Linked DNA regions of Homo sapiens. The protein of the gene in region 6 interacts with the protein of the main gene of each other region in a pairwise test. Each region holds a gene or a part of one and is shown on either strand. Other genes may lie near its edges.

Region 1 (4,869 bases), on a different chromosome or scaffold from region 6:
CTTGCTTTAAGATACTTAGCAATTCACTAACTTCTCTGAAATTTAGCGTTTCTACATCTAAAGTAGAAATATTACTACCATGAGAATGTTAAATGTAGCTTTTCCATGAGGACACAGCTTCTCCATTGGTGGCTGGAATTTTGTTTTTCCTGTCAAACCAGTGGTACCACAGCATCTGGACTAGGGCTGTAACTGAGAACCACCATTTTTCTAAGAGACAGCTTATTTATTTCTCTCTCTTTTCTCATTCCCTTAGTTCCCCACTTCCTATGTAGCCCTTTAAAAATGCAAATATAGACTTTTACCTCCCCTTCACCAGACACTTCCTACAGGGAAAGTTCATCTAACTGTGTGCTCCAAGCCAGAACTCTCCTCCAGAATTAACAGTCAATTTACAAACTAAAGCATGCTGGCCTCTGAACTCTCACTCACCAGGAGGTTGCCTGAAGAGACAACAGTTGAAAGCGTGCCTGCTACTCTCTCCCTTCTGGTTACAACTTATTTCTGCCCATGAAAAAGCCAGCTCAACTGCCTAATAGATAAGGCACCAAGCCAGCACACAGACCCCTTCCCTCTTCCTCCCCTACCTTTTAAAAGTGCCTGCTTTCTGCTCTAAAAGCCAAGCCGTGCACTTAAAGACAACACCTGTGCTACTTCCCCTACGCTAGCTCTAGAATAAATCACTTTCTTTATACCAGATCTCCCTCTTGTTAACTGGACGTTGCAAACGGGAAGCCACTGATCTACTTTTCAGTTACAGGGGCTGATGCTTTCCTGGCTTCTCATTGCCCCTCCCAACCCATTCTACCTGGCTCATTCTTTAAACCAGTGGTCCCCAACCGTTTTAGCACCATGGACCGGTTTTGTGGAAGACAATTTTTCCACGGACTGGGGAATGGTTTCGGGATGAAACTGTTCCACCTCAGCCATTAGATTCTCATAAGGAGCGCCTGACCTAGATCCTTCGCACGCACAGTTCACAATAGGATCCGCGCTCCTATGAGAATGTAATGCTGGGCTGATCTCACAGGAGGTGGAGCTCAGGCCATAATGCTCCCTCACCTGCCGCTCACTTCCTGCTGTGCCGCCCGGTTCCTAACAGTCAGTGGACCGGTACAGGTCTGTGGCCCTGGAGTTGGATATCCTTGCTTTAAACCCTGAGCCTCCTTTCAGCCATCTGACGGCTCAACAGTCACTCTATCTAGCTCCTTGAATATTGTATCTCCTCGCTTGTTCCCTGTCCAAGAACACTCCTGTCAATCATGGGAGACATTTAGACTTCATAAATTCTTTCTATTCAATATTTTCGCTCGAGGACTCTGGGAAGGACAACTGTCAGGGTAACAGTCTGCATTCCCCACCAGGAACCTGGGGCTATGAAATTCGTTCCCCGTGGGTGTTGCGGGAAGTGTAATCGAGGAGCACCATGTAGTCGCAACACTTGAGCCTAAAGGGTGAGGTGATGGACATTTTCCTTTTGCATCTGAGGCTCTGCAGTCCAGACACCTTGCGGGATTCCTGATACTTCAGCTCAGGTAGGCGTTTCCGGAGAATTCTGGGAAGAGTAGTCCATTTTACGGGAAGTGTAGTCCACTGGCTCGTGGAACACTGGGTATTTTGGCTCTGGCAGGTGAACCGTTGAATTCTGGGAACGATAGTCCAGACACTCTGCGGAGTCCCGGGCCCTTTGGCTCAGGGGGGCGGGTCCGGGGAATTCTGGGGAGTGGAGTCCAGACACTCTGGCGCAGAGAGGACACTTCCGGTCTCCTAGTCTGAGGTTCCTGCTTTAATGACCGGGGTAGTTTGAGCCATTTCTGCGTCTTGCAGGACATTTTGAACGAACCCCCTTTGCTTGAGGCTCGCAACCACCCGATGATCGATGATCGTCTCAGGGGAAAAGAAGCCTTGGCGAAGAGCAGAGGTTTAGAGGTGCGAGGGCGGGGAGGGTGTTTATTGTTCCCGTCAGCGGAGCCTTCTGGCGTCGGGGGGCTTTGCTCGCCTCCCGGGGGGTGGGATTGGGGTGGCCTTGTGTGCCCTGCTCTGAGGGTTTCCAGGACTTTGACCTCGCTCAGTCCGCCTCCCTACGTATGCAGTGTGTACACTCTTTCTCGCAGTGTGATGTGGAATGTTAATGTCTCTGTACTTCCCATTGCTGTTCTTTAAAATGGTGCTTATAGGGTCATCCTAATAGAATTGTTTTGCGAATTGAAAGAGATAATACAAATGAAAGCCTTAAAGTTGTCCCTGTCACTTGGTGAGTGGTCTCTTGTTGCCTGATATTTTAAAACGTTTGATATCATTTCAAAGCTATAGAAAAATTGCAAAAACAGTATAAGAAATTCTCATATACCCTTTACCCAAATTTGCCAAGTGTTTACATTTTTCCTGTTTGCTTTGTTGATGACCATCAACCAAATACCACCAGGAACATACCTGTAACCAGAGACAGCTGATTGGTAGCTTTCTGCAGCAAGGAAGCCCACATACCACGGTAATTGTGGGGTGTCTTGGTAAGAGGCATTTAGGAAGGGCTGGTTATAGGGTTTCACATAACATGGTAGATAATATTGGATATTATGTTAAATAATACTGTTACCGATTACATGTCAGATAGATGTGTTAAAAGAATACTAGTATTTGTAGTGTACTTACTAGATAGTGTTGGATAGCATATTACCTAGCATCATGTTATCTAATCTGCAGTTCCATATACGAATTTGTTAAATTTTTCATTTAAAGTCCTTATGACTGTCCTCTGCCCCACCCTTCACCTATTCAAAGTCCAGTTTATGCGTTGTCTTTAGCTGTCACATTTCCATAGTTGTTCATTTGGAGTTTGATATTGAAGGGGGCCTGCCTCTCCACACCTGTGGGTGTTTCTCACAAGGTGGAAATGAGAAACTGAGAAAAGAAATAAGACACAGACACAAAGTATAGAGGAAGAAAAGTGGGCCCAGGGGACCGGCGCTCAGCAAATGAGGACCTGTACCGGCACTGGTCTCTGAGTTCCCTCAGTATTTATTGATCACTATCTCTACTATCTTGGTGAGGGGGATGTGGAAGGACTATAGGGTAATGGTGGGGAGAGGGTCAGCCGGAAAACATGTGAGCAAAGGACTCTGTCATAAATAAGTTTAAGGAAAGGAGTTGTGCCTGGATGTGCACATAGGCCAGATTTATGTGTGACTTTACACAAACATCTCAGTGCAGTAAAGACCAGTATTGCCGCCAGTATGTCTCACCTCCAGCCATAAGGCGGTTTTCTCCTATCTCAGTAAATAGAATGTACGATTGGGTTTTATACCGAGACATTCCATTCCCAGGGATGAGCAGGAGACAGATGCCTTCCTCTTACCTCAACTGCAAAGAGGCCTTCCTCTTTCACTAATCCTCCTCAGCACAGACCCCTTATGGGTGTCGGGCTGGGGGACGGTCAGGTCTTTCCCTTCCCACGAGGCCATCTCTCAGGCTGTCTCAGTGGGTGGAAACCTTGGACAATGCCCAGGCTTTCTTGGGCAGAGGTCCCTGTGGCCTTCCGCAGTGTATGGTGTCCCTGGTTAATCGAGACTGGAGAATGGCAATGACTTTTACCAAGCATACTGCCTGCAAACACATTTTTACCAAAGCACATCCTGCACAGCCCTAAATCCATTAAACCTTGAGTCAATACAACACATGTTTCTGCGAGCACAGGGTTGGGGCTAGGGTTACAGATTAACAGCATCTCAAGGCAGAAGAATTTTTCTTAGTACAGATCAAAATGGAGTTTCTCATGTCTTCCTTTTTCTACGTAGACACAGTAACAGCCTGATCTCTTTTTCTTTCCCCTACAGATATATTTCACATTTAGGTTTAGATTATACATTGTTGGTGGGGATTCCACAGGAGTGTTAAGATGCCCTTTTCTTTTTTTTTTTTTTTGTTTGAGACAGTTTTGCTCTTGTCACCCAGGCTGGGGTACAATGGTGCAATAGGATGCCCTTTTCATTGTAACATAACAAGGTCCAAGTGATGTTCGTTTGTCCCTTCATTGGTGATCTCAGCTTTGTCACTGGCCAAGAAGATGTCTTTCAGATTTTTCCACTCTTATGTTACTTTTTTTTAAATTATGAAGTTTCTTATGGGAAAATACATTATTAGTGGGCATTTTCTTGTAAAAAAGAGCTTCCATTTCTCCTCTATTGGTTCATTGATTTGTTCAACTATAAATATTCTATCAATGTGGACTCAGAATCCAGTCTTATTGATTCTAATGATATGTGCATTAACAGTTTTTTTTTTAAACTCTAGGTTTATTTTAGTTATAGCATTCACCCATTTCAGGTATACAAGTCAGTTCAGTGGTCTTTAGGAACTTTGAAGTGGGGTAATCATCATCATAATTCAGCCGAGATCACTTTCATCCCCCAGTTGGACTCCTCATGCCCATTTACTTTGAACCTCATTCTCAACTCAAATTTAGAACAACTGCTAACCTACTTTCTATTCTATTCTACTTGTCTATTCCAGACATTTCATATAAATGGAATCGTAGGGTCTGTGGGTTTTTGTGACTTGCTTCTTTCATTTACTGTAATGTTTTCAAGGTTCACGGGTGTTGTTGCATGGGTCAGTATTTCATTCCTTTACATTTCCAAATAAGATTCCATTGTATGAATATGCCACAATTTTTCTGTCCCTTTACCTGTAGGAGAGCTTTTTGGTTGTGTGCAATTTGGGGTTAGTATGAATAATGCTGCTGTGAGCGTTCATGTGCTAATTGACAATATGAGTCCTTGTTGGTGGGTGACATCCCTGGCCACCCTTTCATGTCTCTTTTTCTGTCTTCATGGCACTTTCCAGGCACAATTCTGCTTTCCCTGGAACTGT
Region 2 (4,090 bases), on a different chromosome or scaffold from region 6:
GCCCTAGGCAGTTGGCACCTCTTCAGGTGCCTCTTCTATGAGGCAAAGGAAGGCTCTGCTCTTCCTTCCATACCTCTGGCAATATTTTCAGGAGTGGCTGAAATTGTTTTAACTGTAAAAATTGTAGGAAGTATTTTTAGCCCTTGTCACTGTGGATTCACTGTGGTGATGGAGGAGTACAGGGGTTACACCCATAGATCCTGGACCCGAGGGATGTGGGTTCAAATCCTGCTTCTGCTCATTAGACATACAACTCTGAGTGACTTGACTCTGAGCCTCAATTTGCTGATTGTGAAATGGAGATGATGACATTTACATCATGGGCTATAGGATGACTATTGAAATTTACACACATTGTAACACATGCTGGGCACTGCAGTGTTTGCTTTATGAACATTTTCTCATTAATTTTCACAACAGTTCGGTGAAGTGGGAACTATTAATGTATTGATGTGGAAATTGGAGCTCCAAGAAATTAAGAGACTTCTCCAAGGTCACACATCTGGCAGGTTGGTTCAAGAGGCTGGATTTAAACTTCAGGAGCCTGATTCCAGACCTGGAGACTTTTAGTTGCTTGAACACAGCATGTGAAGCCCTCAGGTGCAGGCAAACAGTGCAGACCAGTGAGGCTCAGCTGCTGCTGCTGTGATTATTGTTTGAATTATTATTTTTCCCCATTCTTGTAATGTCCTAGGACATTACTGTCTGCTCCTCACAGTCAGATGGGATTATCATTGTCTTGTATCATTTTCCAATGGTTTCCAACATAGGAGGCTTTTCTGTCCCACATCTTTGTATTCTGTCAGCGGCACCATCTGCCTCCACAGAGCCCAGTGGTTCTCAGGAGTTGCTCAGTGGTTCAGGGTCTCTGGACCCTTTGCCAGTAACCAAGAAGTGAGCTGTAATTTCACCTAATAGCTCCACAGCCACCTGTCACCTCTGTTTGACTTCCCAGGCATTAGTATCATTTGAAGACGTGGTTGTGACCTTCACTGGAGAGGAATGGGGGCACCTGGACCTGGCCCAGAGGACCCTGTACCAGGAGGTGATGCTGGAGACCTGCAGGCTCCTGGTCTCACTGGGTAAGACCTCATTACCCTCCCATGTAGGGGACCCACAGCCTCTTTGAATCCACCCTTTCTAGGCATGGCTGGTCCAGGAGCCTCAGAACCCAACCTTCCCTGATCCCTGCAGCCTCAGCACGTTGTGGTCTGACCTCCTCTTGCTGGGTTTCCCTGTGTCTCAATCAAAGATTGTTATGTAAGAAACACAGTCCTCCTCAACACTTTTATCCCACTGTCTAGCACAGCTGGCCTCAGTCTGACATCTTTATCCCAGACTGCCACAAGAGGTAATTGGCCCAGCTTGGTTGAGTCAAATGTCCTCACAGCCCAGTTAGCAGGACCTGTGGATAATGGGAGGTTCTACAAGCAGCGGGTGATTGACACAGACACTAAGAAGGTGTTTGTTATCAGTGCTGCTTATATCTTTTTCAGCAACACAGTCTCAGCTGAAAGGTCTCTTTGGCTCCTAGCACCTGCACAGTTAACCCTTACTTCCTAAGGCCTGTGCCTTGCTCCTCTGCTGCTACAGGAGATGATTATGATTATGGAAAGGGAGCACAGACACATTCTCAAATGGCATGGATGTATGCTATCTGAGAAAGCTGTTCTTTTTTTCTTTTCTCTTTCCTGTCTCTTGAATGTTGAGTGTTGGCTTAGGGCTGAATCTTTAACACTCCCATAGCTGTTGGTGAATTTCCTCCTCAGTAGAAAGAGTAGCCTCAAACTCCTAGCCTCAAGCAGGCAGCAGGAACTTGCTGGGACCTGTTATCATTTTGATTTTGCCATTTTTATAGTAACCTGTCACAGCAAGGTAACTAATATGTGTAAAGTGCTTAGAATAGAGCTGGAAACATAGCAAGTGTTCTGCATGTGTTTGTTACATTTAACAAATTAATAAATACCAAATGCTCTCCCACCTAAACCTTTAATGGACAGTTTGCCCAGAAGTTGGTCTGAGTAGATATGAATGGAGGCCCAAAGTCTCACTTATTCCAGTTGTTCAAATGGTTACCATCGACAGGGCTCTCCCAGTCCTGCGTCCTCACGAGGGATGAGTCATTAATGAAGTAAACGTGGTGTTATTTTATGACAACTGTGATTAGTTGTCGAAAGGAGATGTATGGGGAACAGCATTCCAGGAGGAGGGACCAACATGAGCAGCATCCCTGTGGGAGCAGGGTGCTTGATTCCTTAACAGAGATGAAGGCAGGCCTGATTCCCCTTTAATGCTGCTCATCACCCAGCTCAGTGCCAAGCATATGGCAGAACATTTGCTGAGTGTGCATGTGGCATGTAAGTGTGCGTAATCCTATGGTGAACATTTGCTAAGTGACAGCTGGATGCGTGCCAGGACAAGATTTTCCAGTTGATGCTTCTGGGTCCTGGTGCCTCAGTCATTGACTTCTCTCCAGAGTCTTCTGTCTTAGCCTTCACAGTTGGCAAAATGTGTGTGGCTGCATGTGGAAGAAGACCACCTCCTGCCAGTTTCACCCTGAAAATAATTTCTTACTTTACCTAATGAGAAGCCCTGAGGTGCTGCTGACTCCTGGCTTGGTCAGTGCCAATCCATGCTAACCCAGTTCTCTGTCTGCTTTCTCTCCTTGGTCTAGGGCCCTGGCCAGTATCCTTGTGGGGCAGTAGGCCTCCATGTTCAGCTTCAGTCACTGGCCTGCCTCACACAACTGACTATCAATAGATGCCATTCATCAGGCGATTTAGTCCTGTGTTTTTCAACCATCATGGGCACCAAAATCACCTGGGGAGCTTTAAAAACTACCAGCACTCAGTCCTTCTGCTCAGAGATTTGGTTTAATTTGTTCTGTTTTTGGAACTGGGTGTTGCTAGGTAGTTTTGATGCACAGGGTGGTTGAATCCTACTGACTTAGGTTAATTAGGGAATACTTTTGGTGAGGCAGGGGAGGGCCCTTTCTGGGGTTTCATTGCAGTATGTTAAATATATGTACTCCTTTACACCTCAGACTTTTCTTTTTGTCTTTCCCTGTACACCATACTCCATTTGTTTCTCCATGCACAGGGCATCCTGTTCCCAAACCAGAGCTGATCTATCTACTGGAACATGGACAGGAACTGTGGACAGTGAAGAGAGGCCTCTCCCAAAGCACCTGCGCAGGTTGGTGACTGAGAGTCTGGCAGCGGGTATCAGGGCAGCCTGCAGACCACCCAGGCATCACTGTGTCTGAAATGCCATGGGCAGCTATTTTGTGGTCTTGAGCAGTCATGGAGCCCTTGACCCCATGGTCCCCCGTCTTCCCACTTCTGTCACACACTCTTTGCCTTTATTCAGGTTGGAATATGTTAGGTAGGAGACAGATTCTAGGCTTTAATGATTTGCCACTCACTAGCCTCATGACTCTGGAGAGGTTGTGTGACGTCACTGTGCCTTTGGTATATAAGTTAGGCTGAGTTAATGACCTTCTCTGAAAAATAAACTCCAAAATCATGTGACTCAACAGATTAAGTTTCGTTTTGTTTTGTTTTTTTATCCATGCCATAGCCCAATGTGGGTCAGCAGGAAAGCTGTGTACCCTGTATTTATTTATGGATCACATGCATTCTGTTGTCAATATGCAGCTTTAAGGTTGCCCCGGCCAAGAGGAATGGGAGAGAAGGGCAGTAGTCACTTCCATTAACATTTCATCCACAAGAACTGGGTATTAGGCTACATGTTGTATCAGGCTGGGAAATGTGGTTTAGCTTTTTTATACCCAAGGAGAAGAGCCTATGGGTATAGTGAACATATACTTATCTGATACACTTAGCCTACATTTGAAAGATAGTGATGATAGTTTCTGCATGACTGGGTTGTTTGGGAATGTGATCACATAGCAGGAAACTGCCTAGCACACTGCCTGACCCGGAGTGGCTCAACAGAAGTTACTTGTAAGTAATATTAATGTAGTGTTAGTCATAAGGAATAGTGATAGCTCAGACATTCTTCTGCATTCAGAAGACAGTCCTTTCTTTTCCTGCAGATTACTATTTCAAACTACACTCTGCATCCCACC
Region 3 (4,090 bases), on a different chromosome or scaffold from region 6:
AACACCTCTTTTTATCTAATCCCTCTCCTGTTTAGATGCACAGAATGTTGAGAATGTGGTCACCTATTGTTAATAATGCTTATTTCATCTCTGTACTTTTAATGCATTGCTTGAATGTTTAAATAATGAAAATGTATCACTGTTTATATATCTACCCTGTGTACATACCTGCCTGTTGTTTTTCTTATTTTATTTTTTTCTTTTTGAGACAGGGTCTTGCTCTGCTGCCCAGGCTGGAATGCAGTGGTGTGGTCACAGCTCACTGAAGCTCCTGGGCTCAAGTGATCCTCCTGCCTCAGCCTACTAAGTAGCTAAGATCACAGGCATGCACCACCACTCCAGGCTAATTTTCTATTTTTAGCAGAGACAAGGTCTCACTATGTTTCCCAGGGTGGTCTCAAACTCTGGCACTCACATGAGCCTCCCAAAGTGCTGGGATTATGGGTGTGAGCCACCGAACCCAGTCCTGTTCTTTTTAGAAAGATAAGGACAGGATGACTATATAAAAAAGGTTTTTTCTTTTTTTTTTTTGAGATGAAGTCTTACTCTGTCACCCAGGCTGGAGCGCAGTGGCGTGATCTTGGCTCACTGCAATTGAACCAAATAGATCAATATGTTAACAGTGGTTCATGGTGGATAATGGGAATATGCATGGATGGTTATTTTCTTTTCCACTCTGTGTTTTCTAAATTTGAAATTATTAAATTACGGACACAATATGGACTCTGAAGCCAGAATGTCCAAGTTCAAATCCTGACTCTGTAATTGCTGTGTAACCTTGCCCTCTCTACATCAGCTTCCCAACAATAAATAAATATAGTAGCTACTCCAGAGTTGTTATGGGCAGTAAATTATTCAATACCCCTAAAGTATCCAGAACTGCGCCTGGCACAACATAAACATTCACTATGTGTTGGCTCTTATTATTTCCCTTTATATGCATTCGTTTTTCTCCTATCTTCCTAGAACAAGAATGTGCAGGTGTATACAGAGGCAAATTTTAAGGAGTACGATGCTTTGACTAGTGCAATATGCTTGACAATTCTAGCAGACTTCTTTAAATATAGGGGCTTCCTTGACAAAGAATAAAGACTTCACCAATACACATACACACACACGGCCTTCTAATCAATTACCAACACACACACAGACATACATACAAGTGTACTTCTAGCCAACTGAAAGTAAGCTTTTCCACTTACCCCAGAAAATTCCGTATGCTCTCCAGTAGAATTTACGGCTGGGGAGCAGTGACTTGAATGCAAGTATTCTTTTCCTATGGGGCAGGGTGCTCGAGGCTCTGAAGGGTGGTAGGGTGGATGTAAAGGAATAGCTGCTCGGATAGGCTCCCCTAGCTTCCTAGCATTTGGAATCCCACTCACAGAAAGGGTTTCCGCTAGTAAGACAAATTAAAGTGGATATTACGATGCAATTCTAAGAAATAAACCATTTTATATACATACATACATACCTATATAAACATGTTCACATACATTAGAAATATTTTTTAAACTTAAGACAAAGCACATAAAAAAATAATTAAACCAGGGATATAGCCTCAGCACACAGGGATCTAATTAAATTAGGATGTAATTTTTTTTTTTTAATTTTTAAAAAAAGTAGAGATGAGGTCTCGCTATGTTGCCCAGGCTGGTCTCCAACTCCTGGGCTCAAGTGATCCTCCTGCCTCGGCCTCCCAAAGTGCTGGGATTACAAGTGTGAACTACCATGACTGGCCCCGGATGTAATTTTAATGTTATTATCATAAAACTGTTCCCTGAAAGTTACTTTAAAAACTGGAAGCAACTTAAATGGCTTGAAGAATGTTATGTTATGTGAATTATGGTTCGTCCACGTTACAAAACCAGTTAGGCAGTAATATTTTTATGTATTACTACCATATGAAAATTCCAGAGATGATAATAAGAAACAAGAATGATTTTTCCAGGCCGGGTGCGGGAGCTCACGCTTGTAATCTCAGCAATTTGGGAGGCTGAGGCAGGCGGATCACGAGGTCATGAGTTCGAGACCAGCCTGGCCAACATGGTGAAACCCCATCTCTACTAAAAATAAGTTAGCTGGGCGTGGTAGCAAGCGCCTATAATCCCAGCTACTTGGGAGGCTGAGGCAGGAGAATCGCTTGAACCCAGGAGGCGGAGGTTGCAGTGAGCCGAGATCATGCCACTGCACTCCAGCCTGGGCAACAGAGCTAGACTCTGTCTCGAAACAATAAAAAAAGAATGTTTTTCCAGTTACTATACTTTGTTATTTACCAATAATATGAAGACCACCAATAGATGTACTAATGTGTCAGAGACTCTGTCCCATTAAAAAAAAAAGGTAAGTGGTGAGAATTTAGATAATAAAATAGTGGATGCAAAAATATGCAACCAAAGACCATGTTAAGCAGAATTCAGATACCATAATTAATAGCAAACATTTACAAGTAAGATCATGTAAGACCAAAAAGGATCTCATATACAGCAATAAAAGTAAAAAGGCTAATGGCAACAACAATTGCCCCAAGAATGATCATCAGCAGTAAAGAACTAACATCCATTACAACTCACTGTCTTCAACAAAGGATGTCCTACTCTTGGACAAAACACTAGGAGGGTACAACATATCTTCATGTGATTTAGAACTTGGTGAGGCTAAGGCTTTTTTAGACAGCATTTCATTAGGACATTGAGCACCTAGGAAAGAAAATATTAAAGGTAAAATTTTTAACTATCAAAATAGTTTGCTGAACATTATACTAAAAGCCAAGAGTTTTGTACTCAGGAAACAAATATTAAATAATGTTGAACGAAATAATGTTGGTCCAACTGCTCAAAATACCAATTATTATTTTTCTTTTTCAGACAGCATTTCCCTCTTGTCGCCAGGCTGCAGTGCAATGGCGTGATCTCGCTGCACTGCAACCTCCACCTTCCAGGTTCAAGCAATTCTCCTGCCTCAGCCTCCAGAGTAGCTGGGACTACAGGCACCCGCCACCATGCCTGGCTAATTTTTTGTATTGTGACAGGGTTTCACTATGTTGGCCAGGCTGGTCTCGAACTCCTACCTCAGGTGATCCGCCCACCTCAGCCTCCCAAAGTACTGGGATTACAGGCGTGAGCCACTGTGACGGGCCATAATATCAATTATTTTTAATTGCTATCAGAAAGTAAGATGCCATTTTGTAATCCAGAATCATTTATACAATTTAAAAGCAAAGTTTCATACAATGTTTCATTATTTAGCTTTAGAAAAATAGATGCCAGAGTTACGGAAATGCTGGCTGTTTTATGGACATGTCTTGGTATGAATAGACACCAGAGTTAGGGTCTTAGCTAGTACCAGAAACATGGACTCATGGTCCAGGCCAAGCGCAGTGGCTCATACCTGTAATCTCAGTACTTTGGGAGGCCAAGGCAGGCAGATCACTTGAGGTTATTAGTTCAAGACCAGCTTAGCCAATATGGCGAAACCCCATCTCTACTAAAAATACAAAAATCAGCTGGGCATGTGGCACATACTTGTAATCCCAGCCGCTTGAGAGGCTGAGGCAGAGGTTGCAGTGAGCCGAGATTGCGCCACCGCACTCCACCCTGGGTGACAGAGCAAGACCTAGTGTCAAAAAAAAAAAAAAAAAAAGACTATGGTCCATATATTGAAGCTTAAATTAGATGCCTGTGAATGTATATGACAGTTATCTGACACTTTAAATCTCAATATGAAAGGAAGCTGCCATAAGCCCTTTTATCACATCAAACCCAAACACCTTGGCCAGGCATCTCTCTGAATCTTTTTTCCTTTGCCTTAATTGCATTACTCTTAAACACAATTCCCCTCTCTACTTATAATGTTAAAATAAGTAATTCATTTTACAGTAACATCTTTTTTACATAGCACTTGACATCACAGAACCCGTTTCTGCAATCACCATCCCTTCCATTCCCAATCAATCCATCTGATTCTCCTACTTCAAGAAACATTTTTGTAGTATCCACACTTGACTCTGGTCCTTCCGTTTCTGTGCCTATCCCAATGGCAAGCATAGCTTTTTGGTCTACTGGAGGGTGAGTTTGCCAGGAACCAAAAGTAA
Region 4 (4,090 bases), on a different chromosome or scaffold from region 6:
TTCCTAGTTCATTTTCTAGGTTAAAGCTGTCTCTTCTCTGGCTTTTGCAAAGTGAGAATACATGTACCTTGTGCTTTCTGAGATGTGCCTTTTCTGCTTCTCTCCACCACTTCTGTCTGAACTTACTGCTTTGTCTCTTTTGTCTGGCATTCTACAACTTGGATTCTACTCCCAGCAGTTTCTCTTCTGTGAGACTTTGTCTTGGAAAGGAACTTTGATTTGTTAATTTTGAGAGTTTATAGCACCCAGACTGTACCATGAGAACTTACTTATACTGCACTGTAGTCTGCTTGCATTTACAGTTGACCCTTGAATAATGCAGGGCTTAGGGGTGCCAACGCCTATCCCAGCAGTTCAAAATCCACATATAACTTCTGACTTCCAAAAAACTTAACTACTAATAGCCTACTACTGACCAGAAACCTTTCTGACAACATAAATTGTTGATTAACACATATTTTTTATGTTATATGTATTATATACTGTCATCTTAAGGGCAAGCTAAAGAAATGAAGATGTTAAGAAAATCATAAAGAAGAGAAAATATATTTACTATGCATTAAGTGGATGTGGATCATCATAAAGGTCTTCATCCTTATCATCTTCACAGTTGAGTAGGCTGAGGAGGAAAAGAAAGAGGAAGGGTTGGTTGTGCTGTCCCAGGGGTGGCAGAGGCAGAAGAAAATATGAGTATAAGTGGATCTCTGCAGTTCAAACCTATATGGTTCAAGGGTCAAATGTATTTATAAATGGAATTGTGCCAAACTGCCCCCTAGTTTTTGCTGCTGTTCTCAGATTAGCCCACCACACTGTCCAGTGAGCATCTGCTATGACTGTGAGGTTCTGTTCTCCACCTGTCAGAAGTTCTCGTGCCTTCCTTCATCTTCTTCCCACACAGATACTGATACCATGCAAGTCTTGTAGTTGTGAGAGGTTTGTTTCCACCTGATTTTATTTGGAAGTTTGTCTCCTGATTCTGCTGTAGATGCTGTCTGTGAATCTTTGCTCTTCCTGCCCTCATTGCTTTATCTGAGTTTATGGGGAGAACTAGAGGAGATTTAAAAAGTACACTGCTATTGCTGTTATCTTCCCAGAATCTTCTCATTGACAGATGTTCTTGAAGCATGTTCTATTTCTTTTTTTAAACAGTATGGCATCTACAAGTTAAAAAGAAAATGCAATCAATAGTTGATTCTTAGTTTACAATACCAGGTAATTCTGTAGTGAAACAAATTGTAGGAACTTTTTCTAGGCTGAGTTAAATATCATAAAATGTTATCATACCTGTTGAATGTATGTCATTTTTTTCCCAGTGATAAGTAGTTTAATGATTTGTATGTCATATATGGACTGTGCTAAGAATCAACTTTTCTCTTTCAGAATAACAAGCCTTTGTATTCATTTGAAGATAATGCAGACTATGTTTATGATGTTATGTGGTCACCTACCCACCCAGCCCTGTTTGCCTGTGTGGATGGCATGGGGAGATTGGATTTGTGGAATCTCAATAATGACACAGAGGTGAGCAGGAAAATAACAAAAATTGCATTGAAAAATAGAAAATTGGATATTTATTGAATAATTTGTGAAATTCCTTTTTTTCCAAAGAATGTAAAAGGGTTCTGTGATTGTAGATTCATCACAAAGAACTCAAATAAGCTTTGTACCCTAAATAATAAACAGCATGCTGCGAAGAACTAAAGGGAGAAATAATGTTGCCAGGAGCACTGGGGCATTTCCTTTTACTTCTGAAAAGCACTATCATGTCTCTAATGTCCTGGCAAAGTCTCATTCATAAGATAACTGGGATGTTTTTCATTCATAAGCTAGAAAGCAGATAGTTTCAGACTGTTGAAGTATGTTAACCTTAATTCTGAATTTCTAAATTATCTCTTAGCCTTGATAGCATTGTATATCATCCATAAACATTAATCTTAGCCTGATTTGTTTGAAGGAAGGAAAAATATATTTTGATTTTTGATGAGTTTTTTCTATGAAGGATTGAAAACAGAGTGTTACTATAAAATGAATATAGAAACTATCAGATTTCCTAATTGCTGTACTAAAATCACTTATTAGCCATTAAATTTAATTGCAACTCTTATTTATTTTTAGTCACATGTATTTTTACCAGCTTAGAGAAGCTTAAAAATGTTCTTAGAATTCTATTCTATATTGCTATTAGTAATATAATTAATATTAGCATTTCTGTCAATAACAATTGTTGAGAGAGTCAACTCAGATCTCCCACATCTCTTCCTAGTTAGCTAGAATGGTACCAATTCTGTTTTCTTAATTTGGATTTTAGTCTTAGAGATTTGAAGTTACAATTAAATGTGGATTGAAATTTAATATTTCTTTATAACAATTTTGGTATTCTGTGTATGGGGTTAAATTATTTGGGGATGACTAGTACAAATTAGAAGGATTTTTTTGTCAAATTTCAAAATTTTTTAAAAATTTTATCATACTTTTAGTCTGAATCCAAACACTGAATGTTTGCTCCATGTGTAGCAAATAAAACTCTTCTTCCTTAGCAAAGAAGAGGCACAGTCAGATTCCAGGGAGCTGGTGCCATTGTGTTGGTGCCATCATCCTGGCTATCTCCAGCTAGCTCATGGAACAAGAGGCTTTAGACAGACTCATACTGCACCTTCAGTATGAACCGTTTCTAGGAACACTGAGTCAAATACAGGTTTCAGCTGATAGAGATACATGCTGCACAAGTGATTCTTGTCCTTTACAACTGAACCATAATCTGCTTATGAGGGCTTTTGAAGTGTTTTCTTTTTAAATGGGTTTTGGCCATGTGTTTTCAAACAGCTTGACTTCTTAAAGACATTAAAACAACAAAAAAGGATTCTTTATTCAAGAGAAGACCTTTCAAAATAATGTGTCTAGTCTTCTGAGAATTTTTTATACAAAGACTTATTTTCCCAAACCATTTTCAAGGATCGACTATAATGTCATTCATAATATATCACTGAAGAAGAAGAAAGTTGGGGAAATTCTTACCTGTTTTCATCTTTGTTTTTAAAAATGTAGCCAGCTTGAGAGAAGAATTACTGTTTTACATGTTTATAGAAATCTTGATGAAACTTTTAACACTGTCCTTTATTTTAAATGACTTTAGGTACCAACTGCCAGCATTTCTGTGGAGGGTAATCCTGCTCTTAATCGTGTGAGATGGACCCATTCTGGCAGAGAGATTGCTGTGGGTGATTCTGAAGGACAGATTGTTATATACGATGTGGGAGAGGTATGGGACTCCCTGCCTGTAATTTTGACACATCGATTTAGTTGCATTGTAGTAAAGGCATCTTTGTGGCTAACCCTAGGCTTTGAGGTTTATGAGTTGTTTAAACTATATGGTTGTAAAGATAAAACTTACTTTCTACCACAGAAGCAGCTCTTGAAACATTTTCTTTCTAAACCGAATGTTCTGTTTCCCATGCAACAGATTTTGAGGGTAATACAATAAATACATTGAAAATACCTTGTTTCTTGAAGCATGCATTGCTGGAAATTAGAAATTCTTTGGGGAGAAGTTTGGAGTTATAGGTGGACTTTGGGGTTTTATTGATATTGAAATAAGATTTATTTTTCTGTATTCATTAATTTGGGCCAGGTAGTAGAAACCAAAAGTAGTATCTTTTGAGAACCATCTGTGACTTTATGCAATGTGCATCTTGACTCTTAAGCCTTGATGCAAAGCCACAGTAATGGAATCCAATAGGATGAGCTGCAGCTCTCTCATCTTTGCTGCTCTGATTGGCTGAACACAAAGCCCAGGATGGATTTCCTCTTTTTTAACCCTGGCTAGGGGTTAAAAAAGTGACCTTAGTCACTTTCCTTTGCTATGCCTCATGATTTCTCTCCTCTCTGGATATCCCATGGCCTCTAGCAATTGGATCTGGTGGGAGGTAGATTTAATCATTTACAGCAGCCAATTAAACTATCTGCACAAATGGAAATGTTCTGTACCTGCACTAATATGGTAGCTTCTAGCCACATATGGCTATTGAACACTCTAAGTGTTGCTACTACAACTGCGTAACTGAATTTTTAATTTTAATTAATTTTAATATAC
Region 5 (4,090 bases), on a different chromosome or scaffold from region 6:
TCATTTCTATTTTATAGTCACTATATATGCATACCTAATTATTCTTAATTTAGGATTGAGAGCTTTTCTTTAAAATTCTTAAAAAGATGACACTTATGACAAGTTTTTAACACTTTGGAATACATAGAGATAATATCTTCAATATGTAGACTATATATTTGATTAACATATTAATAAATTATGAGGAACATATATTTAAAAACTAGTTAGCCAAAATGTTAATACAGGCTGAGTATCCCTTATCCAAAATGCTTAGAATGAGAAATGTTTTGAATTTCAGATTTATTTGGATTTTGGAATATTTGCATATATAAATAATGACATATCTTGAGGCCAAGACCCAAGTCTAAACACAAAATTTATATATGTTTCATATATACCTTATACATAGCCTGAAGGTAAATTTATATAATATTTTTAATAATTTTGTGCATGAAACTAATCTTAAGTACTTGCGGAATTCTCTATGGCATCATGTTGGTGCCCAAAAAGTTTCAGATTTTGAAGCATTTTAGATTTTGGATTTTTGGATTAGGGATGTTCAACCTGTACTCTCCCTTCCCTCCCCTTCCCTTCCCTTCCCTTCCCTTCCCTCCCCTCTTCTCCCCTCCCCTCCCGTCCCCTCCTCTCTCTCTCTCTATATATAATATATATTGAGATATATATATGTTTTTTGTTTGTTTGTTTTTTGAGACAGAGTTTTGCTCTTGTCACCCAGGCTGGAGTGCAATGACACAATCTCAGCTCACTGCAGCCTCCGTCTCCCAAGTTCAAGCAGTTCTCCTGCCTCAACCTCCCGAGTAGCTGAGATTACAGGCGGGAGCCACCATGCCCGGCTAATTTTTGTTTTTGTTTTTTTTGTAGAGACGGGTTTCATCATGTTGGCCAGGCTGGTCTTGAACTCCTGACCTCAGGTGATCCACCCGCCTCGGCCTCCCAAAGTGCCGTGATTACAAGCATGAGCCACTGCACACGGCCCTATCTCTCTGTATTATATGACACATTTGGTCAGCTTCTGATTATCCAAGGGTTTGCTTTTTGGTATTTTTGAAACTTATTTTTTTTAGAATGTTGATTTTATAATGAAGTAAATAAACTTATTTAAGATTGAATTGGAAAGATAATGGAACTTCACAATCAGTTCATTTTGTTATAATTTCTTAGCTCCCTTGTAATGACAAGAAGAAAAAGTAACTGAAAAGAAACATGGATATCTTATTTCTATTTACCCATTAATTAGACAGTATAGTTGCTATTGCAGTTTTTGCTATACCAGTCCTTACTGTTTTCTTGAAATGTCTTAGATATGTCTGAATTTGTTCACCATGCACAAATGTGCAACTTTAATTTTGCCTCCCAAAGATAGCTTTGATTTTTTTTTTATGCTAGATTTGTTTTCTTTGCTAACAAATGTTTACATTTTATCTTTTCCAGGAATGGGATATGGAGATAGAACAAGCACATTTTGTGGCACTCCTGAATTTCTTGCCCCAGAAGTATTAACAGAAACTTCTTATACAAGGGCTGTAGATTGGTGGGGCCTTGGCGTGCTTATATATGAAATGCTTGTTGGTGAGGTAAGCAGTGTGAAATAGGTAAGAGAACAGAGGAAGGATGATTGAAATAATAAAGCATGTCATTTATAAAACCACCTAATACTGTCTTCAGTATGAGTGGAATTTAAGTTTTATAAATATTTATAGTATACTAGTAGTCAGCTATCTTTCTGTAATACCTTCAATAAAGATTTTTATGTGGTTTGTGGAATGCACTATCAGTGCTTTGAAAATAGTTCCTTGTATTTCAGTATTGTACTTTTATTATGTTTTCTGATTTTAAGACATAGTCATTTTATAGGGAATGGAATAACAGAAAGACTAATAAAAGGAATGTACTCTGTACCTGTAAAGAAAAGCCCACTATAGATTGGTCAGAAATAAATGTTACCTTCGACTTCCTCCAGACTTCCGTCTGAGCAACACACTCTGCATCCTTGCTTCACCGGGAAACTACTGAAGTTCCTGGGGAAGCAAAGTAGAATTTCGTAAGAACAAAATGGATGGAGAGAGGAGAAAACCTATGGTAGCTGTGAAGGCCCTGATGCCATGTATGTCAAATTGATATCATCCGATGGCCATGAATTTATTGTAAAAACAGAACGTACATTAACATCAGCACGATAAAAGCCATGTTGAGTGGCCCAGGTCAATTTGCTGAGAATGAAACCAATGAGGTCAATTTGAGAGAGATACCTTCACATGTGCTATCAAAAGTATTCGCTACACCAACAGCTCCACCGAGATTCCTGAATTCCCAGTTGCACCTGAAGTTGCTATAGAACTGCTGATGGCTGTGAACTTCCTAGATTGTTAAATAAAATATAATTTTAAAAAAATGAAAGAAGTGTTACCTTAAAAAATGGTAGAGTTGAAAAAATTCGCATTTTTTCCTACTGTTTTCTGTAGATTAACTTAAATTTCTGAGGATAATTGAGTTGTACATAGAAATTATTACTATTAGGAAACAGTGAGTTATGTTAAGGCAATAATAGGAGACTAATAATTTATTATGTTATAAATTGTTAGAAATGTTGAATTGGGATGAAATTGGGAAAGAGTAAATCTTTTAATAAGTAATTGAAGATTACTTGAAGGGACTTGAACTGGAGATGCAAGAAAAATTATTTTAAGGGATTGGTTCATTATTCTGCAGTTTCCCCATGCCAGCAACCTCCCTTGTACACTTGTAAGTTTGAAGAAGTTAGTGCTGAATGAACAAATTATCAAATTGAATATCAGAAATTTCTAAAGTTTTGTTCTATGCTTGTCATTTATTGGCACTTACCCCAAACAAATGGTTTTAGTTTCGCCGGATGGATAACCCCTTTTGGTATGTCAATTTGAAGTGGATTCCTTGGAAAAGGAGGAGAAGTATGGCTAATTAAAATTTATCATGTGCTAAGCACTGTACTGTATGCCTTAAATATTAGTTCATTTAATTTTGCAACAGCCTTTAATAAGCTCAGTACTGATCTTCTGCCCATTTTCGGAGGTGTAAATAGAGACACAAAGAGATTAATGACTTGCTTAAAGTCACACAGCTCTCATATGGTGGAGCTGGAATTTTAACCTTGTCACTCTGGCTCCAGAGCATATCTAAAGCATTATGCTTTGCTGCTCCAGGACAGGATCTTCAATTCATCCAGCCTTGTTTCTGTTCTTAAGACTAGTGGTCCAGATCTGAATTTTTCACCTCTATTTAGAAAAGCTGTTGTGCAGTGTTTAGGTTGGAAAGATTTATTTTAGCTCCAGTCCACAGTGGCTTTTACTTTCTGAGAGTGCCAGAAGTTCTCATAAAATAGTTAATCTGCTGTAAGCTCTGGCATACTTGAACTCCTCCCCACCCCCTTCCTTTATTTTAACAGTAACATTTTGGAGGGTTTTTTTGGTTTTGTTTCATGTAGTATTCAAGTAAGTATGAGATTTATGAGATTCAATTATGTGCTTGCTTAAAATTTACTCTCCATATTAGAGATGACATGTGCAAAATATGAGTTTATTACAAAATACTGTAGAATTAATCCAGTTGAATCTACTCCCTCCTATTATAAAGCCACTGGAGGGTTTGGCAGAAAACAAGGAAGCTCCTGTTTCATGTTTTTTAAAAGAGCTAATTGATTGAGCTCTTAATTACCTAGAAGATAAAAGACAGTGGATCTGGCTATTTCTTCACAGTTGTTTCTTGCAATTTCTCTTTAGTATCTCCACAAGAGGGTAGCTGGGAAAAGAACTAAACTTAAAACTCATCAGTCTACTTCATAATTTTATAGCATTAGTGAAATGCTAGTGATAACTCCTTTTTAACTATGATGAAAGTAAGGTGTGGCTAAAGTTTATGTCAGATTTCTCTATTATTACAAATAATTGTAAACTCACCGGATATATTATACATGTTCAGATTTGTATACTTCTACTAGTTTTGATTACTGGAAAGACTCCAGGAATAAACAAACATCGCAAGTCCCCTTTTTCCTGTCTCAGATGGGAGTGAAGATACCAGAGAGATTGAACAGAATGCTGGACATGGTTTT
Region 6 (4,090 bases):
AGACAGTAAAGGGGAAAAACCTACCCAGATGTTACATAACCAGTCCATGGTGGTGTAAGAAATAGCACCATGGAGAGGTACCCTGGGAATTCTTCAGAGAGTCATTGGGTCTTTGTTGATTTGACTATGGGAAAACCCTTCCTGGGAAAATTTCCAGCTCTAGGATGGGCAAAGAGGGACCTGTCACCTTGGGAAACTCTTCCTGCTGCCCTGGCATCATGGTGCTTTGCCTGGAATGCTTTATAGGGGGCCTCTGGCCCTGCTTCCAGGTGCAGGGATGCTAATTCTTAGGTTCCATTAGCTCTCCTCAAAATAGAAGCTTTGGGGGGCAACAAATCGGAACAAAAGACAGCTAGAGAAGAAAAGTTATTCTGAGTGATACATGAGGTACCCAAAAGCCTAGAGCCCTGCTTTCAGACAGTGAGTCTCCCAGCTAGTTGCTAGGATTCATGACATCAGAGAGTTTGCCTTTATTCTGAGGCTAGATTTATAATCTGAGTATAATGGAGGTCCTATATTTGGCCAGGTCAAGCAGAGGCAATCAACAAGGAATCAAAGAACTGCAAGTTTTTCCAGCTGTATCAAGCCTCTCAGAAGAGCCTTTAGATTAAATGGTGCTGGGAGAAGAAGGTTGGCACAGTGGGAAGGCTTGGGCTGGAGTCAAACAGACCTGAGTTCAGTATCTCAGCTCCACTAATTAGCAGGATGAACGTAGGAGGTCTGGTTATGGTCTTTCTCTGAGCCTGTTTCTATATCCAGGATATGAAATCAAAATTGGTTAATAAAACCTTATAGCTAGATGGGATCCTGAAACAGGAAAAGGACCTTAGGGAAAATGTAGAGAAATCCAAGTAAACTATGGAGTTTAGTTAATAGTAATGTATCAATATTTGATTCCTTAGTCATGACAGGTATATCATGGTAATGTAAGATGTTGACAATTAGGGAAATTGGGTGAGAACCCTCCCAGGAAACTCCGTACTACCTTTGCAACTTTTTTGTAAATCTAAAACTATTCTAAAATTCAAAGTTTATTTAAAGAAGAAAAAAACCTTACAGAGCTATTTTGGGAATTAAATGAAATGTGAAGCATGTTGAAATCACTTGCACACTTACCAAATCTGAGGCTGAAACTATCAAGTCTAATGCTTAGCGCATGGTTAGTTTTCATTAAAGATTAGTTTCCTTCCTCCCTTATATGGTAATCTGCAGTATTCTAAGGAATTCTGATTAGAATTAAGAGGAAACATTAGAAGTTACTTTTAGGGTGTTGAATCTTCCAGCAGGTAAGATAGGTCTTGTGTTCTAATTAGAGCAAGTTAGTGTTCTTTAAATATCAGTAGAATTAATGTTCTAAGAGACATAATTCTTTTTCAATTTTTTGCTAGTGGACACAGAGTCTTGCTCTGTTACCCAGGCTGGTCTCGAACTCCTGGGCTCTAATGATCCTTCTACCTTGGCCTTCCAAAATGTTGGGATCACAGGTGTAAACCACTGCACCCGGCCAACATAATTCTTAGTCATGAAGCAACAAAACAGATACAGGTGTTTGTATCATCACAGCCTTAAAAGTGGGCATGGTGACTCATGCCTGTACTCCCACCACTTTGGGAGGCCGAGGCAGGTGGATCACTTGAGCCCAGGAATTTGAAACCAGCCTGGGCAATGTGGCGGAACCCCATCTTTACAAAAAAATTCAAAAATTAGCCAGGCTTGGTGGTGTGTGCCTGTAGTCACAGGTACTTGGGAGGCCGAGGTGGGAGGATCACCTGAGTCCAGGGAGGTCAAGGATGCAGTGAGCCATGACTGTGCCACTGCACTCTGGTCTGGATGGCAGAGTAAGACTATCTCAAAACAAAACAAAACCAAAAAGGAAAAAGTATAGGTATAGGTGACTGGTGCTTAGAGACATGTGCTGGAGTATTTCAACCGGATCTCTTCTAATGCTTGAGGATGATATGTGAGTCTGGTTAGGATGGGCCTGTCAGCAGATAAAAGGCCATTAGAAAGAATTCCTTTTTTTTTTTTTTTTTGAGACAGAGTCTCACTCTGTCACCCAGGCTGGAGTGCAGTGGCACAGTCTTGGCTCACTGTAACCTCTGCCTCCAGGGTTTAAGCAATTCTCCTACTTCAACCTCCTGAGTAGCTGGGACTACAGGCATGCACCGCCACGCCTGGTTACTTTTTGTATTTTTAGTAGAGACAGGGGTTTTGCCATATTGGCCAGGCTGGTCTCAAACTCCTGACCTCAAGTGATCTGCCCACCTCGGCCTCCCAAAGTGTTGGGATTACAGGCTTGAGCCACTACACCTGGCAAGAATTCTTTACCACATCCAGACCAATGTATTTGGTGTGGGAATAAAGAACATAAAAGGAAACTCAGAATGCCTGAAAGGCAGGTACTGGCAGTCACATCTGACAGTTCACATCTCTCAGCTTTTTGTACTAAAAGCATAATTGGAAGGTAATCATAAACAGTTGAATGGAAATTTTACATACAGTAAACTTTTGAAAGTTTTTACATACAGTAAAAATTTGAAAGTTAATTAAACTTTCAAAAATTGCTAAAAGTTCAAGAGTCTGCTTCGGTTGAGGCTTTGAAGATGAGCACACAGGGTAAATCTTCAGGGCAGATGAGAAGAAGGACAGCTATTGGGAAGAGGAGAAAGACTCACTGCACTGTGGAATTTCCTGGGCCCTGTCTTCTAAGCCTCTACCTTTTTTCTGTCTTTAGAAAAAGAGAAGCTCTTTAACCTTCTGCTCTCAGGTTTCAAGACAGGAAAACTGGGGGCTGGTCATCAGTGCTTTCCTTTCCTCCCGGTCTCATCTCTCTCTGCCTGTCCTCTGCAGAAGAACTGCAGGAGCTGCGGGAACGCTACCATTTCCTGAATGAGGAATACCGGGCCCTGCAGGAGAGCAACAGCAGCCTCACGGGGCAGCTTGCAGATCTGGAGAGTGAGAGGTACAGCTGTCTCTGGAGAGTGAGAGGTCATGGGGTTCCACAGGACTCTGCCTTACCTTGGGCTTTCCCTGAAGGCAGATGCCAGGGCAGTGAGCGTTCCTTTGCTCCTGGAGACCCAGTCCTTTCCATGGTTTCCAAAGGATACAGATACCACCTACAAGCAGACATGGGGATCCGACCCAATTATCTCAAGACTAGAGGGAGTGAGTTCTGAAGTTTACTTCTGCTCTAGGCACTGGGTTCTGGTTTGCTCTGCCCTAAAGTGGATCAGAAGAGATTCTTTTATTGTCTGCATAGACTTGTTTCAGTCTAATGGCAGGCACAATGCTTCCAGATTGGAGTGGGCTTGACTAGGCCTAGCCTCAAAACTAACTGGACTGGCACTCTAAGGGTCTCCCAGAGCCAAACACACCTTTGCAGATTGAGGGGCTGGAGACTTTCTGTAGTCTTTTAAGCATGTTTATCTGAGCGGTGAGTCACAATAGAAGGCCCCTTACTATCTTTGGCCTAAAATGAAGGTATCAGGACAAAGCCTGCATGGCTGGTGATGCCAGGCAGAACTCCCTTCAAGCATAGCTCTGCGGTTCTGAATTGCAGGACACAGAGAGCAACAGAGAGATGGCTGCAGTCCCAAACACTGAGTATGACGTCAGCAGAGTCTCAGACTTCAGAAATGGATTTCTTAGAGCCTGATCCTGAAATGCAGTTGTTACGGCAGCAGCTACGGGATGCTGAAGAGCAGATGCATGGCATGAAGAACAAGGTAGGGCACAGAGGGTGGGGAAGGCAGGCACATTTCTTGTCTTTCTTTCACCTTCTCCCAGCCTGTGGTAGAAACATCTCCATAGGCATCCACTGTGGAGGGAGATAGTACTCTGGGGTCTCACTTGCCTGATGTAAATCTTCCAGTCAAAGAGCGCCATGCTTTCCCCAAGCTTGTTCTTGGAGCATATGTGGTATCTGTAGTAAACAAGCCTCCCTGTTCCATTTCCCACATAGTGTCAGGAATTGTGTTGTGAGTTGGAAGAGCTACAGCATCATCGCCAGGTCAGTGAGGAGGAGCAGAGGCGGCTGCAGAGGGAGCTCAAGTGTGCTCAGAATGAGGTGCTTCGGTTTCAGACCTCCCAC
Region 7 (4,090 bases), on a different chromosome or scaffold from region 6:
CCGTGGTCCAGGCACAGTGGCTCACACCTGTAATCCCAGCACTTTGGAGGCCAAGGCGGGAGGATCACTTGAGGTCAGGAGTTCAAGACCAGCCTGAGCAACATTGCACACCTCGTGTTTTGCAATGCCGAAATACAAAAAATTAGCTTGGCATGGTGGCACGTGCCTGTAGTCTCAGCTACTTGGGAGGCTGAGGTGGGAGGATTGATTGAGCCTTGGAGGCATAGGTTGCAGTGAGCCGAATTCATGCCACTGCACTCTAGCCTGGGCAATAGAGTGAGACCCTGCCTCAAAAAAAAAAAAAAAAGAATCTAAGGGTGGGACCTGGGTATCCATGTTTTTTTAAAACTCTTCAGGTAATTTCAGTCAGGTTTTGACAATGCTAACCAGAGCTTCTAAAACTTTAATGTGCATAGGAATCACCTAGGGGTTCTTGTTAAAACAGTTAAAGTTCAGATTCTGATTGAGGATGTCTGGGGGTGGTCTGAGATTCTGTGTTCTTTGTTTGTTTGTTTTGCAAGCTTCCAGGTGATGCAGATACTGCTGCTGATCTTTGCACCACACTTTGATTCATGAGGCTGTACACTGTGCTGTCCTTAATGTTTCAAACACACCCCTTACCATTACTAGTCAAATGAGGGCAGAGGTTCCCCCAGAGCCTTTCTGTAATAATATCATCAAAACCTTGCTGCTTTGATCTTTAGATCCCACAAAAGTTCACTCTGAAAATTCTTCCCATATGCTCTCTCCTCTTATCATGTACTCACTGGTAAGCTAGGTTTAGATTCTGGAGTGAGCAGTGAGGTGCAATCAAAGTAATAAGGAAGAAAGTAGCTAGCTTGTTTCTCTGCCCAACTCACCCTGGGGGTTGGAGGAGACTCTGGCTTCCTTTTCTGTTTTTAAAAATTGTTCTATGGCCTCCAGGAATAGATAATTATGTTCTCATTCTCAAAATTGTAACCACACTACCCCCTACCACCAGTTCCCTCTTAAACATGTGCCTGCTTGTCTCTAGGGTCAGAACATATCCTGGGATATGGCGGTAGTCCTGAAAGCAACTCAGGAGGCACCTGCTGCTTCAACCCTTGGCAGCTACTCATTACCAGGGACTCTGGCCAAGAGTGAGATACTGGAGACTCATGGGACCATGAACTTTCTAGGTATGGTTCAGTTCCCTGATTCTGAATCTGACCATTGGGGTTTCTCAAAATCTTTTCAGAGACTGGTGGGCATCCAGTCTCCTAGGTTGACCAACAGAGTACTGAGGTATTGAAAGTGTCCAGGAAAGCTGGAAAGAGGAATGCTGAAATGCCTGTGCATTTGTCATGGGAAGTGGCTTATTTTGCACACAGGCTCAAGACACTAGACAAACATAGGTGTTGTGCTGAAACCTGATCAACACCAATATGGTACCAGGTTCAAGAGGCTGAAGAAGAGACCCAGAGCCAGCAAACAACATAGAATTTTACTAGGTGTTTATGTACAGGGTAGACAGTCTAGAGGCAGTGGACTGGGCACGGGAGAACCACATGGCCCAGTGGCACAGGCTGGACAGGAGAGCTGCAACTGCTTGCAAAAGGCATGCGGTTTATGTCGCATTTTCACTTAACACCCTCTCCCTAATGACCTCCACCTGGCAGCCTTAATTTAACCCAAAACAAGGGGCCTCAATCCCCTTTAAGGCCCGCATTCCACTGAAAGGGGTGGGGAATGGATAAGGAATGGATCTCCAGGTTGGCCACTTCTGGATTCCTTTGCTTGGAACTCCAAACTATATTCAGGTGTGTCTGCCATACAGGATCATTCTCAGGGTATGCTTAAGTTGTTGCCATCAGGTGTATTTACCATACAATAGGTGAATTCCAAACTCACTTTTTAGTGATATTTATTGTTCAATGAGTTTCATCTCTGTGCACACATGTAGGCACATGTCCTTTTTATACGCTTTGTAGTTAGCATAGGTTGGTGAGCCTGCAAGAGATGCTAGCCGAGGTAGGAACAGTCAACTTTTGTGGTGATTTTGAGCAAATGCCCTGGAGATGTTCTGTTTTCATAGATCTTTGTGCAAATTATAGAGGATTTTGAGCAGCTGTGTTAACCATAATGATGTTCAAAACTAGGTCTTCGTGAAGGGTACTGATGGCTTATCAACTTGTTCTCTCTAAGCTAGGACTAGAGAAAGGGTAGTATGTTCTAAAGATCTCACTGGCAGTGGCAGAAGCTTGCCTGTGGAGGAGTGACATATAAGTGAGGGTCAAGAATGCAGTAGCCATGAGTCCTGTGTTTCAAAGCACTTACTGGCTGATTGCCAAGCCCTATTCTTTTTATGAGTCTGCCAGATATTGAATATTTTGAACCCACTCTCCTCCCTAACCAGTTCCTCAGGCATCTGGGGACCAAGTCACTTTCTTAAACCAGTGCTATGGGGAAGACAAGGATCTCCACCTAGATTTTCTTGTCTCATATTTAATTATTCCCAAACTCTTAGCAGCTTCTGTTCCCCACTTTCTGCTTTGTGTTCCATTCTCTCTGGTGCATTCGCGTGCATGTCACTTATTTTCTGTCTCTGAGCTTTATCAGCCATTCATAGTCTTAACCCCAACAGCTGCACCTCATCAGGAATGGGCTCCCTTTTCCTACTTTGCCTCTTACCTCAAGACCATGTTCATACCCAAGACTTAGTATTTTGTGCTGCCAGCTATTTCCATGGCGATGGCAGGAACACTGCCAACACTATTTCCATGGCGATGTCAGCAGGCGATGGTGGGAACACTGAGCTCTATGTGTGAGAGATATCTGAGTGGGGTTGCTGCCCTGCCTGTAATAACTCTGTGACCTTGAGTAAGTCCCTTCTCTCTCTGGACCTCCATTTCCTGTTCTACAAATTGGGTGTGTTCATTAAGTACAGGATTTGTTGGCGGCCTCCTTCCTATGTGTCAGGCAGCGTGATAGGTGCTGGAGATACAGAAATGAATAAGACACAACCTTGCTCTTTTTTTAGCTGAAGGAGAACAGTTTCATCTTCATGATGAAATTGTATAATATACATGAAAGTGCTTTGGAAATTGTGATGTGTTACTGGGTTTTTAATGTCTGAGCAAGTTTTAACTGTAGTTTTCATATTTTAATTAATGTTGAATTTATTAAAGTTTATTCATTTAAAAACCAATTTTTAAGCCATTAAGCATAACTTTTTACTTCATCCATACATCTAGAAATATTTGTATAAAAGTGAGAACATTTGTATTTTTTCTTTAACTTATGTTCAGTTAAGCTTCAAATTTTACAGATTAAATTTTTTAAACATTTTGGCCGGGCGCAGTGGCTCAAGCCTGTAATCCTAGCACTTTGGGAGGCGGAGGCGGGTGAATCACCTGATATCAGGAGTTCGAGACCAGCCTGGCCAACATGGTGAAACCCTGTCTCTACTAAAAATTCAAAAATTAGCCAGGCATGGTGGTGCGTGCCTATAGTCCCAGCTACTTGGGAAGCTGAAGCAGGAGAATCGCTTGAACCCGGGAGACAGAGGTTGCAGTGAGCCAAGATTGCACCACTGCACTCCAGCCTGGGCAATAGAGCAAGACTCTGTCTAAAAAAATAAATTAATTAAAAATTTTAAACATTTAATTCTACCTGCTTATCAAATTTCTTTATATAAAACATAATTACAAATTTGATATCTTTAGTTCTTTAAAACATTCCAAACACCTAACTGGGCAGACTTACAAATCTTGTAAATAAAATCTTGATAAACACAGCTGTTATAAATCTAATGAATTGGACTTATAAATTTAGTAAATCAAATTACCCTTCTTATCTCAGAATACAGTCACCAGCTAAGGTGGCAGGCTTATGTAGCATTTCAGCTATCTTTAAAAAAAAAAAAAGAGTGAAAGAAGAGTATTGATTTAAAAACTATGGCTATGCCTGTGTTCTAGTTGGTCACAAATTAGTTTTTGTTTTAGTTTTTCATTATTTCTGTACTTAATTTAATTTCTCTAGAGCTACAGTAATCCTACATGTTTTTTAAAAAAAGGAAAAATACCATTTCAAATAAGCCAAGGTTATACGCCCGGATTATTTGCTGATT

Evidence for each region.
Region 1: the proteins of CCDC136 (region 6) and ZNF223 interact in a two-hybrid assay, tested with the Homo sapiens proteins (one large-scale study listed by BioGRID).
Region 2: the proteins of CCDC136 (region 6) and ZNF599 interact in a two-hybrid assay, tested with the Homo sapiens proteins (one large-scale study listed by BioGRID).
Region 3: the proteins of CCDC136 (region 6) and CEP95 interact in a two-hybrid assay, tested with the Homo sapiens proteins (one large-scale study listed by BioGRID).
Region 4: the proteins of CCDC136 (region 6) and DYNC1I2 interact in a two-hybrid assay, tested with the Homo sapiens proteins (one large-scale study listed by BioGRID).
Region 5: the proteins of CCDC136 (region 6) and PKN2 interact in a two-hybrid assay, tested with the Homo sapiens proteins (one large-scale study listed by BioGRID and IntAct).
Region 7: the proteins of CCDC136 (region 6) and ZNF35 interact in a two-hybrid assay, tested with the Homo sapiens proteins (one large-scale study listed by BioGRID).

The regions. Positions count from the first base shown.
Region 1 is NC_000019.10:44,050,267-44,055,135, forward strand, and holds the start of ZNF223 (zinc finger protein 223), read left to right. Parts: upstream 1-1,769; 5' UTR 1,770-1,929; exon of another isoform or gene 1,930-2,491; intron 2,492-4,842; 5' UTR 4,843-4,869. UniProt on the Homo sapiens protein: May be involved in transcriptional regulation.
Region 2 is NC_000019.10:34,766,421-34,770,510, reverse strand, and holds part of ZNF599 (zinc finger protein 599), read left to right. Parts: intron 1-955; coding exon 956-1,082; intron 1,083-3,099; coding exon 3,100-3,195; intron 3,196-4,090. UniProt on the Homo sapiens protein: May be involved in transcriptional regulation.
Region 3 is NC_000017.11:64,520,008-64,524,097, reverse strand, and holds part of CEP95 (centrosomal protein of 95 kDa), read right to left. Parts: intron 2,697-4,090; coding exon 2,571-2,696; coding exon of another isoform or gene 2,555-2,570; intron 1,397-2,554; coding exon 1,203-1,396; intron 1-1,202.
Region 4 is NC_000002.12:171,742,669-171,746,758, forward strand, and holds part of DYNC1I2 (cytoplasmic dynein 1 intermediate chain 2), read left to right. Parts: intron 1-1,380; coding exon 1,381-1,521; intron 1,522-3,133; coding exon 3,134-3,259; intron 3,260-4,090. UniProt on the Homo sapiens protein: Acts as one of several non-catalytic accessory components of the cytoplasmic dynein 1 complex that are thought to be involved in linking dynein to cargos and to adapter proteins that regulate dynein function.
Region 5 is NC_000001.11:88,827,047-88,831,136, forward strand, and holds part of PKN2 (serine/threonine-protein kinase N2), read left to right. Parts: intron 1-1,434; coding exon 1,435-1,577; intron 1,578-4,090. UniProt on the Homo sapiens protein: PKC-related serine/threonine-protein kinase and Rho/Rac effector protein that participates in specific signal transduction responses in the cell.
Region 6 is NC_000007.14:128,801,800-128,805,889, forward strand, and holds part of CCDC136 (coiled-coil domain-containing protein 136), read left to right. Parts: intron 1-2,850; coding exon 2,851-2,962; intron 2,963-3,559; coding exon 3,560-3,725; intron 3,726-3,961; coding exon 3,962-4,090. UniProt on the Homo sapiens protein: May play a role in acrosome formation in spermatogenesis and in fertilization.
Region 7 is NC_000003.12:44,651,542-44,655,631, forward strand, and holds part of ZNF35 (zinc finger protein 35), read left to right. Parts: intron 1-1,015; coding exon 1,016-1,160; intron 1,161-4,090. UniProt on the Homo sapiens protein: May be involved in transcriptional regulation. Involved in cell differentiation and/or proliferation.